2 separate regions of the Homo sapiens genome follow, and region 1 is linked to region 2. A link means that fine-mapping ties the variant in region 2 to the plasma level of a protein whose gene starts in the linked region. Region 2 holds a variant in brackets. A gene starts in the other region. All regions are shown on their reverse strands.

Region 1 (5,447 bases), not on the chromosome of region 2:
AACCCTCCCACTGCAGTCCCTGAAGCTCCCCCAGCCACGGCTACTGACCTGACATCCCAGGTCTGGGCACACTGGGGACAGCCTGTTTCTTTTCTTTTTCTATTGTCAAGATACAGACCTACAGGTGCAGCTTGTTAAATACCTCTCCCTTCCTTCATAATGCCCAGAAACCCTCAGTTCCCCACCGCCCCCTAAACATCCAAATCCCTTGGTTACAGCCCTCTCTGTTCTCTTACCCATTCCCAGAGCTCCACTCAGGAGCAAGAGCTGGGAGCTGAGACTGGCTGTGTAGATTCAAAGCCCAGCTCTGTGTGACCTTAGGCAAGTACCTCTCTGCCCAGCGCCTCAGTTTCTCTGTCTGTAAAATGAAGGGATGGGGTCTAGGGTTCCTGGCCACATTATATTCTGGGGAATCTTCATCTCCCATTGTCTGCATTTATGAGCCCAACATTTGCTAGAATTCCATCTAGCCCCGTTGAATAGTCCATCCTCACCAAGTGTGAATCTAGCATTCAGAGCAAGTCCAGGATTCTAAGTTGATCCTGGTGTCACATCTCTCTGTGCCCAGGTTGTGCCCTCTTACATCCTCCACTTTCTCCCCTACCTGAAAGGACAGGCAAGCAGGTATCCCATTTATGTCCGGCAGGTGGGAGGGGTGGGGAGTCACGGAGTCCTGTAGAGACCTATCCTCCTTCCCCATCTATTCTCTCTGATGTCCCCTGTCTCCAGAAGACAGGATAAAGTGTCCTTCACCAAGGAGGGCAGAAGAATGTCTATACTTGCCCCAGGATGGCCCTAGGTAGGGTAACAGGGCGCAGGGAGGCCCTGCCTCTGGAGACGCACTTCTGTTTCTGTCCCGTATCCTTCTCAGTTCAGAGTACCTAAAACTCCATCTCCACCTCCCTTCTCAAACTCAGTTCTTTGAGGTGGCATTTTAGGCACCCTCCTTGGCTCCAAGTGTCACACTGTGTGCCGGCTTCCCCCCAACTATCACACCGCCTCCAGTACTAACAACTTAGCCATCCCAGATGTCACAGTTTTAGTCTTCAGCGACAAGCCCCCTCATTTTGCATTGGCTCAGAGAGGAAAAGCAACTTGGCCAAGGTCACACAGCAAAGGTGGAGCACAGCTGGGTCCTCTGATACCCAGTCCAGGACTCTCCCAAGGGCTCCTGGAGATGGCTAACTTCATCTGTCTCCGGGCATCCTGTCACTGCCCCTCAGCCCCCAGGGTGCTCTCTTCACCTAGCCCCTGCTCGCTGAGCAGAGGAAAGTACCAGCCCCTCAGTCAGGAGCACCAGGGAGCCTGCAGTGTATGTGGGGGGGGTGTGTGGAACCAGGGATCAGGAAAGCGGGGGGCACTGGGTCTCAGGGGTCTTACCTTGGAGGGTGCCCCAGTTTGGGCAACACCCTGGGGCATGGGCAGGGAACCCAGGCCAGCCCGGGTCCCTGGCCTCCTGCTGCCCCTGCTGCTCTGGCCCTCCATGTCTGCAGCCCCCGGCAGCCTGGACTCCCTTGGCTCCGGCTCCAGCTCTACCGCTCCCGGGAACCAGTGATGTCATCAGCCATTTCAACCTGCTGAGAATTTAAAGGCACAGGCTCCCACTTCCCAGCCTGGAAGAGGCCGAAGCAAGGTGGCTACCCCCTGGGAATCCTTCAAACTGGCTGCTGAGGCTGGAACAGCCATGGAGTGGGGAGGGGAGAGTGTACCCATCTGCCTGGCCCAGGTCCCAACTGGCAGCAGGAAGGAGGCTGTCTGTCTACCTTCACCTTTCTGCCGTAGGCCTGGTCAGCCCTTTGCTCCAGGGAGGGGCATTAACACACCTGCCTTAAGGTAGGACAGGTGGTTCAGAGGTCTGCACCCTCTCCAGGGCCTCAGAGACAACTGAGTTCTTGCCCTGATCCTGTGACCTTCCTGGCTCCCTGCCAGCTCAGAGCTTGCCCCGGCCCCCACCCTTGCCCCATTTTCAGGTCTTGGTGCCACCCTCTCCACTCCTACTGCCAGTCCCAGGCTCTATTCTTCCCAACCCAGAACCAGACACTCAGGCTCCAGCCACTGCAGTCTTTTCCCATCTCAGGCCTCAGCACCAGCCCCTCCTCTTCTGCAGACACCTAGCTGCCCTCAGATGTCCCCACAGCCAGGCCTAACCCAGCCCGGCTTCTGTCAGCTTTCTTCTCTCCAGTATTCACTGGGTGTGGTTTGGGAGGGGAACTTGCTCAAGGTCACCTGGTGAACTGAGAAGGTCTCCTGTGTTTCAGTGAGAAAACTTAGTGACCTAGGATGAGCACAAGCCCTTCGAGCTATCTGGGGGAAGGGAACTTGGGTGGAGAAGGGCCCAGCAGTGGGGTAACAGACTGACAAGAGAGTTACAAACAGGCCTGAGAATTGCTACAGCCAGGACCCAGCCCAGGACATGGTCCCCAACAGGCCTACGGGAGTGTTTGTTGAATGAATAAATGAATTAGAAGAGTGAATGGGTGATGAGGGTCAGATTGGGCTGGGATGGCTGTGGGATCTGTTTCTCATGGCTTAGAGAGGAGTGATCCCACCCACTTTAGGCAGAAAGTGTTCAGAGTTGTGTGTGCAGAGCTCCCTGTTAACCAACATGGAGCATCTGCATGGGCCTGTGCAGTCTCCTACATGAAGGCAGATGCCTCACTTTCCTCTCCTGAAGGCACTTCCTACCTCTGCTTGACTGTCAGTAGGTCTAGTCTGTATTCTCAGGCCAGCATCTCTGCTGGAATTTGCAGGGGCAGAGACTCAGGCCATATTAGAGTGTTGGGGTAGAAAGGTCTTTGGACAGCGATAGTGGAGATGGTGACAGTGGTGACGGGGAAGGCGACTGTGGTGATGGATGTGATGATGTATGTAACTGTGATGATGGAAGTAGGGGGCTAGCAGTGGTTGTGGTGAAGGTGGTGGAGGTGATGGTGATGGCAAAGGTAGAGGTGATGATGATACCAATACTGATGATGGTGTTGTGTCAATGAAAGAGGTAGTGTTGGAGTTGGAGGTGACAGTCAGGGAGGATGTGAGAGTAGACCTGGTGGTGATGCTCAGGTTACCAGAAAAAGGAAGATTCGAACTCATCCTGTCTTATCCTCTGTCTCCTGTTTTACAAATAAGAAAATGGGAGCCCCCGGGCTGGGGGAGTACTGGCAAAGTGCGGGTAATCCCAGCACTTTGGGAGGCTGAGGTGGGCAGATCACCTGAGGTCAGGAGTTCGAGACCAGCCTGGTCAACATGGCGAAACCCCATCTCCACTAAAAATATAAAAATGAGCCGGGTGTGGTGGTACATGCCTGTAGTCTCAGCGACTTGGGAGGCTGAGACAGGAGAATTGTTTGAACCTGGGAGGTGGAGGTGGAGGTTGCAATGAGCCAAGATCGTACCACTGCACTCCAGCCTGGGTGACAGAGAGAGGCCCTGTCTCAAAAAAAAAAAAAAAAAGAAAGAAAGAAAAGAAAAAAGAAAAAGAAAATGGGAGCCCCCAAGACTACCCAGCTTTTCATGCAATCCTAGAGGGAATGATGGGCAGATCCAGGCCTCTGGGACCAGTCCTAAGGCTCAGCCATCTAGGGCTGGGACAGGGGCATCAGTGCCCTTTGGAAGCCAGGCAAATGTCATGCAAATGTGTCTGCAGAGGGCTCCTCTGCCTCAGGAGGGCAACCCAGGATTTCCCACCACCCGCTCCCTGAGCTCAGACCCTGCAGGGGACTTTGTTTCTGGCCCTGCCACTGACTTACTTGAGGAGGTCACTCTGATTCCCAATTTGTGTAAGGGAGATTAAAACAGCAGACACCTCCTAAGTTTGCTGGTGAAGATTCAACAGGATAATATATATGAAATGTTTAGCATAGAGCCTGCCTGGCACAGCAAGCTCTCCATAAAGGTGGCTGCTCTGTATTTATCATCATCATCATCACCACCATTGACTTCAGCCTGCCCATGTGGTGGATGCTGAAACAGGCTGAGGGTGGTTACTCTCCTGGGAGGACAAGGAAGGGGCTCTGAGACCCAAGCCTGGTCTTGTCAGGAGAAGGGGGTAGGGGGCGGACCCCAGCTGAAAAGGGAGTGAGTTGGAGCTATATTTGAGCTCCTGGTGTGATGACTAAGGAGGTTGATAACAGGCTCTGGGGCTCAGGGCGGCAGGCTGGGGGCAGCTGTCAGGGAGAACCGCCCCCCTGGAGACGGCTGTCTCTGGAGGCCCTTTCTGGCTCCCTCCTTGCCCTCACTCTTGGTGGGGGAGGGGGGTGGGCGTACTGAGGCAGGGTCCAGGGCTCATCCAGCCCACTCCTGGAAACTCAGTGCTGTCCTTCAGGCTGTGTGGGTCAGGGATAGGAAGGCAGGATGCCAGTGATAGATGGAGTATCCCAGTTACTCTCCATAGTAACCCTGTGAGGTTGGTAATGAGGCCCCCATTGGACAGAGGAAGAAACCGAGGCCCAGGGATTACACAGCCAGTAGAGAGAGGACAGAGCATGGAGCTCCTGGAGAGGCAGTGGATAATTCTTCCCGACAGAGGAGCTGACTGTTGAACCCCTTCTTTGAAGGAGAGTCCGTGCTGCCAAATCGAAGAAGAGAAACGCCCTGGCTGGAAAGCAGAGAGAACAGCAGGTACAAAGCATGGATGGGGAAGGAAGGTTCTGGCTGTGAAAGGATGAGAAATTTGGACATGTACCCTCCTGCCCTTTGGTTCGGAGTAAACATGAGCAGGGAAGGGAGAGAAGTCTTTCCTGTCTTTTTCCTCCTCCTCTTCCTCGGTTCACTTTCCAGGGGCACCTGAGGATGGCAACGGTACCGAGGGTCTGTCCTCCTTCCTTTCTCTCCCTGGTCACCCTGACCCAGGCCCGCCATGAGGGAGGTCATGCTATGGCTACCATCTGCAAAGGTGTAGAGGGTGATACAGGATATTGTGGGAATGTGAAAGAAGGGGTTATCTGGGAGGGCTTCCCTGAGGAGGAAGTATACAGGGCACAAAAGAGCATTTCTTCTCCCAAGGCTTCACTCCAGGGTTTCTTGTTGGTAACAAGCTTCACATGTTATGTCCCCAGCACTTCATTCTCACCCTCTGAGGCAGATGTCATCCTCACTCCCCATTCTGCCACTCAGGAAATGGGCTGGAGGAGGAGGAGTGACTTTCCCAAGGTCACACAGCTGGGGCTGAGCTCAGGCCTCTCTCCTCCTTCTCTTCGGCTCCCCCTCCTCCTAGGCAGCCCAGCACCCGCTGTCAGCTGCTCTGAAGTGAGTGGCTATTTTTATTCTGGTGCGAGGGGATCTCAAGCAGCAGAGCCATGTAGGTTAGAGGCTCTAGGACACCCGGCCTCAGCAGTCCAGGGGAAACTTCCTGCAGCCACCAGACCCTGCTAAGCTTGCCTGGGGGCTCTCATTTCTTGCAGACTGACTTGCTCTGGGCTCCTATGCCTCCAGAAGCTTCTTTATTGGAG
Region 2 (5,000 bases):
TCCTCCAGCCTCCCCCATCCTGCACCACTTCCCCACATCTCCCCAGCATCCCCTACTCACACGAGGGGATCCTGGAGGAAAGGCCAAGGCACTGGGCTGGGCGTCTGAGCAGGGAGGAAGGGGGCTCCACTCCGAGGCCTTCTCCAGACCAGACCCCACCTTCTGACTTACCCAACAGAAGTCCAGTGAACTGTGGGTTCTAGCCCTGCCCTGCTGCTAACCCAGTATCCCTCCTTGTCTCTGGGTCTCAGTTTCCCTGTCTGCACAGTTGGAGGGTTCAACAGATGTCCCCCAGTTCTCTTCCAGCTCAGCTGCTCCATGACTGATACAAGGGGCGGTGCTCTAGCCATAGTCCAGGGATGTGGGGGAGAAGAAAGAAGGGTCACTGGGGTTGATTTCAGTTCTGGAGCAGCCAAGAGTCGAGCTGGGTTCGGTGTGGGCAGTGCCATGGTTGCAGATGGAGAGGTCAGGGAAAATTCTTAAAGGAGGCAGTTGATGGCATTCTGGGCTGGGGTGAGGAGAAAGGTGTGTGTGTTTGACCTCTGTGACCCTCATTAGGTTAAGGGAGTGGGCTTAAGTCAGGCAGGCAGGGCTTTGACTCCTTGCCAGCTGTGTGGCCTTAGGCAGGTTGTTTACCTCTCTGAGCCTGTTTCCTCATCTGTAAAATTGGGGTAATACCTATAAAAAGGACCGATAGAGGCCGGGGGTTGTGGCTCACGCCTGTAATCCCAGCACTTTGGGAGACTGAGGCAGGTGGGTCACCCTGTCCAACATGGTGAAACCACGTCTCTACTAAAATTACAAAATCAGCTGGGCGTGGTGTCGCACGCCTATAATCCCAGCTACTTGGGAGGCTGAGGCAGGAGAATTGCTTGAACCCAGGAGGCGGAGGTTGAAGTGAGCTGAGATTGCACCACTGCACTCCAGCCTGGGCAACAGAGTGAGACTCCGCCTCAAAAAAAAAAAAAAAAAAAAAAAAAAGACCCATAGGAATAGCTCCAGGCCAGGCGTGGGATCTCAACACTTTGGGAGGCCAAGGCAGGAGAATCACTTGAGCCCAGGAGTTCAAGACTAGCCTGGGCAACATAGTGAGACCTTGTCTCTACTAAAAATTAAAAAAAAAAAAAATGATCCAGGTGTGGTTGTATGTGCCTGTAGTTCCAGCAACTAGGGACACTGAAGCGGGAGGATCACTTGGGATCAGGAGGTTAAGTCTGTTGTGAGCCGAGATCACACTACTGCACTCTGGCTTGGGTGACAGAGCGAGATCCTGTCTCAAAAAAAAAAACAAAAAAAAAAAAAAAAAAAGAAAAGAAAAGGAAAAAAGAAATGGCTCCATATGGTGCCTGTGTTTTATTCCCAGCCCCAGATAGGGGCCTGACCCCCCACTGG[T/G]GCCAGGCCTCGGGCAACCTGGGCTGAGAGTGTGCGGCTCCCCCACAGGCCTGTCCATCCTCATGGAGCCCATCCTGTCCCGCATCCCCCTGGCTGTACTGTTTGGCATCTTCCTCTACATGGGGGTCACGTCGCTCAGCGGCATCCAGCTCTTTGACCGCATCTTGCTTCTGTTCAAGCCACCCAAGTATCACCCAGATGTGCCCTACGTCAAGCGGGTACAGGACCCTTTTCTGGCTGCCCAGCCTGGGGTGGTAGAGGGTGCTGGGGTGTGATAGGCACTGACCCCAGCCTCCGCCTGCAGGTGAAGACCTGGCGCATGCACTTATTCACGGGCATCCAGATCATCTGCCTGGCAGTGCTGTGGGTGGTGAAGTCCACGCCGGCCTCCCTGGCCCTGCCCTTCGTCCTCATCCTCACTGTGCCGCTGCGGCGCGTCCTGCTGCCGCTCATCTTCAGGAACGTGGAGCTTCAGTGTGTGAGTGGCTGCCTGGGCCTGGGGCACAAGAGCTGGGAGCATGCGAGGGGCGCGTCTCAGAACTAGGGCAGGCAGGACAGAGTCATGGGTAAAGTCTGGGGCTAGGGCTGGTGTCCAGGTTCTGGCCTGCTGTGTCCTAGCATATGATCTGGAGCACGGGGCCTTGTTTCTCTGTGTCTTCATTTTGCTCACCTGTAAAGGGGGAAATGATGGCACGACTGGGGAGAGCGTCAAGAGGCAGACAGGGTGTGCTGTGAGTGAGCTGGACCCCTAAGCAGCAAGTCCTGCCGTCTTCCGAGTCATTTGGGACAGAGTCACTCCTCTAATAGGATTCTTCCACAGGGTGACTCAGGTCACTGTGGGGCCGCCTTGGTGAAAAGGTCCCCTGCTCACCCTCTGCAGGCCCTCCCCTGCCAGGGTCCACATCCCCGGGGTTGCCTCTCACTTTGACAACGACTCATTTAGGCCAGTCCTAGCTGCTGGGGAGATAAAACAGGACTGGTCCAAGGTTCAAGACAGCCAGACCCTCTCCTAACTCCAGAGGTGCCTTTCGTGCCCGGGGAGGGCTCTTCTGGCCCCAGGGTCTCTCACCCTGTCTCTCTCCTGTCCCTCCCCTCCAGCTGGATGCTGATGATGCCAAGGCAACCTTTGATGAGGAGGAAGGTCGGGATGAATACGACGAAGTGGCCATGCCTGTGTGAGGGGCGGGCCCAGGCCCTAGACCCTCCCCCACCATTCCACATCCCCACCTTCCAAGGAAAAGCAGAAGTTCATGGGCACCTCATGGACTCCAGGATCCTCCTGGAGCAGCAGCTGAGGCCCCAGGGCTGTGGGTGGGGAAGGAAGGCGTGTCCAGGAGACCTTCCACAAAGGGTAGCCTGGCTTTTCTGGCTGGGGATGGCCGATGGGGCCCACATTAGGGGGTTTGTTGCACAGTCCCTCCTGTTGCCACACTTTCACTGGGGATCCCGTGCTGGAAGACTTAGATCTGAGCCCTCCCTCTTCCCAGCACAGGCAGGGGTAGAAGCAAAGGCAGGAGGTGGGTGAGCGGGTGGGGTGCTTGCTGTGTGACCTTGGGCAAGTCCCTTGACCTTTCCAGCCTATATTTCCTCTTCTGTAAAATGGGTATATTGATGATAATACCCACATTACAGGATGGTTACTGAGGACCAAAGATACATGTAAAATAGGGCTTTGTAAACTCCACAGGGACTGTTCTATAGCAGTCATCATTTGTCTTTGAACGTACCCAAGGTCACATAGCTGGGATTTGAACTGAGCCGTGCAGCTGGGATTTGAACCAGGCCTTCTGATTTCAAGGTCCGAGCTCTGTCCTCTGTCAGTCATGCGTCCACTTTCCCTTCCCCTGTGACTCCTCCCTTCCCCACTCTGCTCCCAGCCCCTACCTTGAGACCCTCTTCTCTGGGCCCAGAGAGAGGCGTCCTGGTGAGGACAAGGTACAGGCAAGGATGATCCAGGGATTGGGCCTGGGACTCAGGCCTCCTAAGTGTTTGGTTCCTCCCTCCAAACACTCATTAGTTCACTCATTCATTCATTCCACAAACATTTACTGAGGGCCCCGGAATCAGTGGACTCCGAGGGGACTGAGACAAGCCCTGCCCTGGGGTGGGGGTGGGGGGCAAGGTACAGTTGATTCTACATTTGGATAGGGAGTGGGGGAGGGTGGGAAGGTAGGGGCGGGAGAGTGAGGGGGTTTGTAATTTATTAATTGCGTATTTTCTAAGAGTTTTCAACATAGTTTGGCTTCACACACAACTTCAGGCCCCTCATTTGAGAGCCATTATCCTCAACTCCATCTAAACTGAATCTTGGGGAGAACCCAGATCTGACCAATTGGGGTAGGAGACAGCAGGCTCTCCAAGAACATGGGCAAATTTATTTTTTTATAAAACAAAAAGATAAAAAGAGTTGAAAGACGTGAAAGTGGTGAGAGATGGAGGAAACAGAATCAGGAAGTGGTAGAAAAGAGAGGAGGTGGCTGGGCGCAGTGGCTCACGTTTGTAATCCCAGCACTTTGGGAGGCCAAGTTGGGCGGATCATTTGAGGTCAGGAGTTTGAGACCAGCCTGGCCAACATGGTGAAACCCCGTTACTACTAAAAATACAAAAATTAGCTGGGTGTCTCGTGGCAGGCACCTGTAATCCCAGCTACTTAGAAGGCTGAGGCAAGAGAATCACCTGAACCCAGGAGGTGGAGGTTGCAGTGAGCCAAGATTGCACCACTGCACTCCAGCCTGGGCAACAGAGCGAGACCCTGTCTCAAAAAAAAAAAAAAAAAAAAAAAAAAAACGGAAGGAAACATCAGCCTTGGGGGCCACAGACTCAACATGTGTGTGTGGTGGGGTTCCAGCCCAACATAGAGTAACATTATTTGTACCTCCCAGGCTAGCTCAGTCCATGGGAGGCTCTCCTGTCCCTGAAAGCTGACACCCACCTTTCACCACTTCGCCCATGCTACAGTTCAGTTTCCTCGTCTGTAAAATGGGGATGATAATGGTACCTACCTTGCAGTGTTGTTATAAGGATTAAAGGAGACAGTGCAAGAAAAGGCCTTGGTTGGTGAAGAGCCCAACCTCGGAGGGGAGCTGCTGGGATCCTCCTTATCTTGACTGGGATGTCCCTGTCTCCCCCTCCCCTTGCTCCTTGAACATGGCCAAGGAAAGTGAAAAACAAAAATTATTCACTCTGCTAGCACCCTTCCCCTTGATGCCTGGGAATAGGTTTTGCCAATAAACGTATCTGTGTTGGAGTGGCTGCCTTGCCTGAATTCCCGTTCCCAGAGTCGGGGGTCCCGGGGGTCTTGGCTGAACTAGGTGGGCATGGTGTGTGTGGCACGGGCCTGGCACAGGGCTGCATCTATGCAGCAAGGGGAGCCAGGCTGAGGTGTGACCCTGAGCCCTAGGGTGGGAGGCCAGCACCCAGAGAGTGGGTAGGGAGCAAGAGATGAGATTATGCTCTGAGACTCCTTCCTCTCCTGAATAAGCAAGACCTGTGGGGGTGGGAGGAGGGACTGTAAGGGGACCTTGCCCCCTGCTCCTTATACTTGTGAGCCCCCAATTCCCTTTAGATCAGTGGACCCCTTACCGGGAAGCTGGACAGCACCTTTGACA

Alleles and levels. Positions count from the first base shown, and alleles are read on the strand shown. Strength reflects both the effect of a copy and how common the allele is.
For the plasma level of the protein whose gene starts at base 1,534 in region 1, T is the low allele of the variant in region 2 and G is the other (weak association).

What was found. A credible set is the group of variants that fine-mapping cannot tell apart. PIP is the chance, under the fine-mapping model, that this variant and not a neighbour inherited with it causes the effect. The UK Biobank Pharma Proteomics Project read protein levels with antibody pairs (Olink). The fine-mapping took linkage between variants from a reference panel, not from the people measured, so its PIPs are less certain.
Region 1: it holds the start of INPP5J, and the variant in region 2 is the best candidate, but not a certain one, in a credible set for the plasma level of the INPP5J protein (UK Biobank, PIP 0.58).

What each region holds. Positions count from the first base shown.
Region 1 is chr22:31,119,053-31,124,499 of GRCh38, reverse strand. It overlaps INPP5J (inositol polyphosphate-5-phosphatase J), which reads right to left and starts at 1,534. Exons shown (of 13, transcript NM_001284285.2): 1 at 1,381-1,534. The coding sequence starts at 1,485. LOC105372995 (a long non-coding RNA gene) reads left to right here and starts at 4,198. Exons shown (of 3, transcript XR_938163.3): 1 at 4,198-4,617.
Region 2 is chr17:44,248,029-44,253,028 of GRCh38, reverse strand. SLC4A1 (solute carrier family 4 member 1 (Diego blood group)) reads left to right here. Exons shown (of 20, transcript NM_000342.4): 18 at 1,441-1,610; 19 at 1,697-1,870; 20 at 2,491-4,639. The coding sequence ends at 2,571. Among named protein-coding and RNA genes, the nearest start is that of SLC4A1, 18 kb to the left of the region's middle. The variant T/G (reference allele first, on the strand shown) is at 1,393.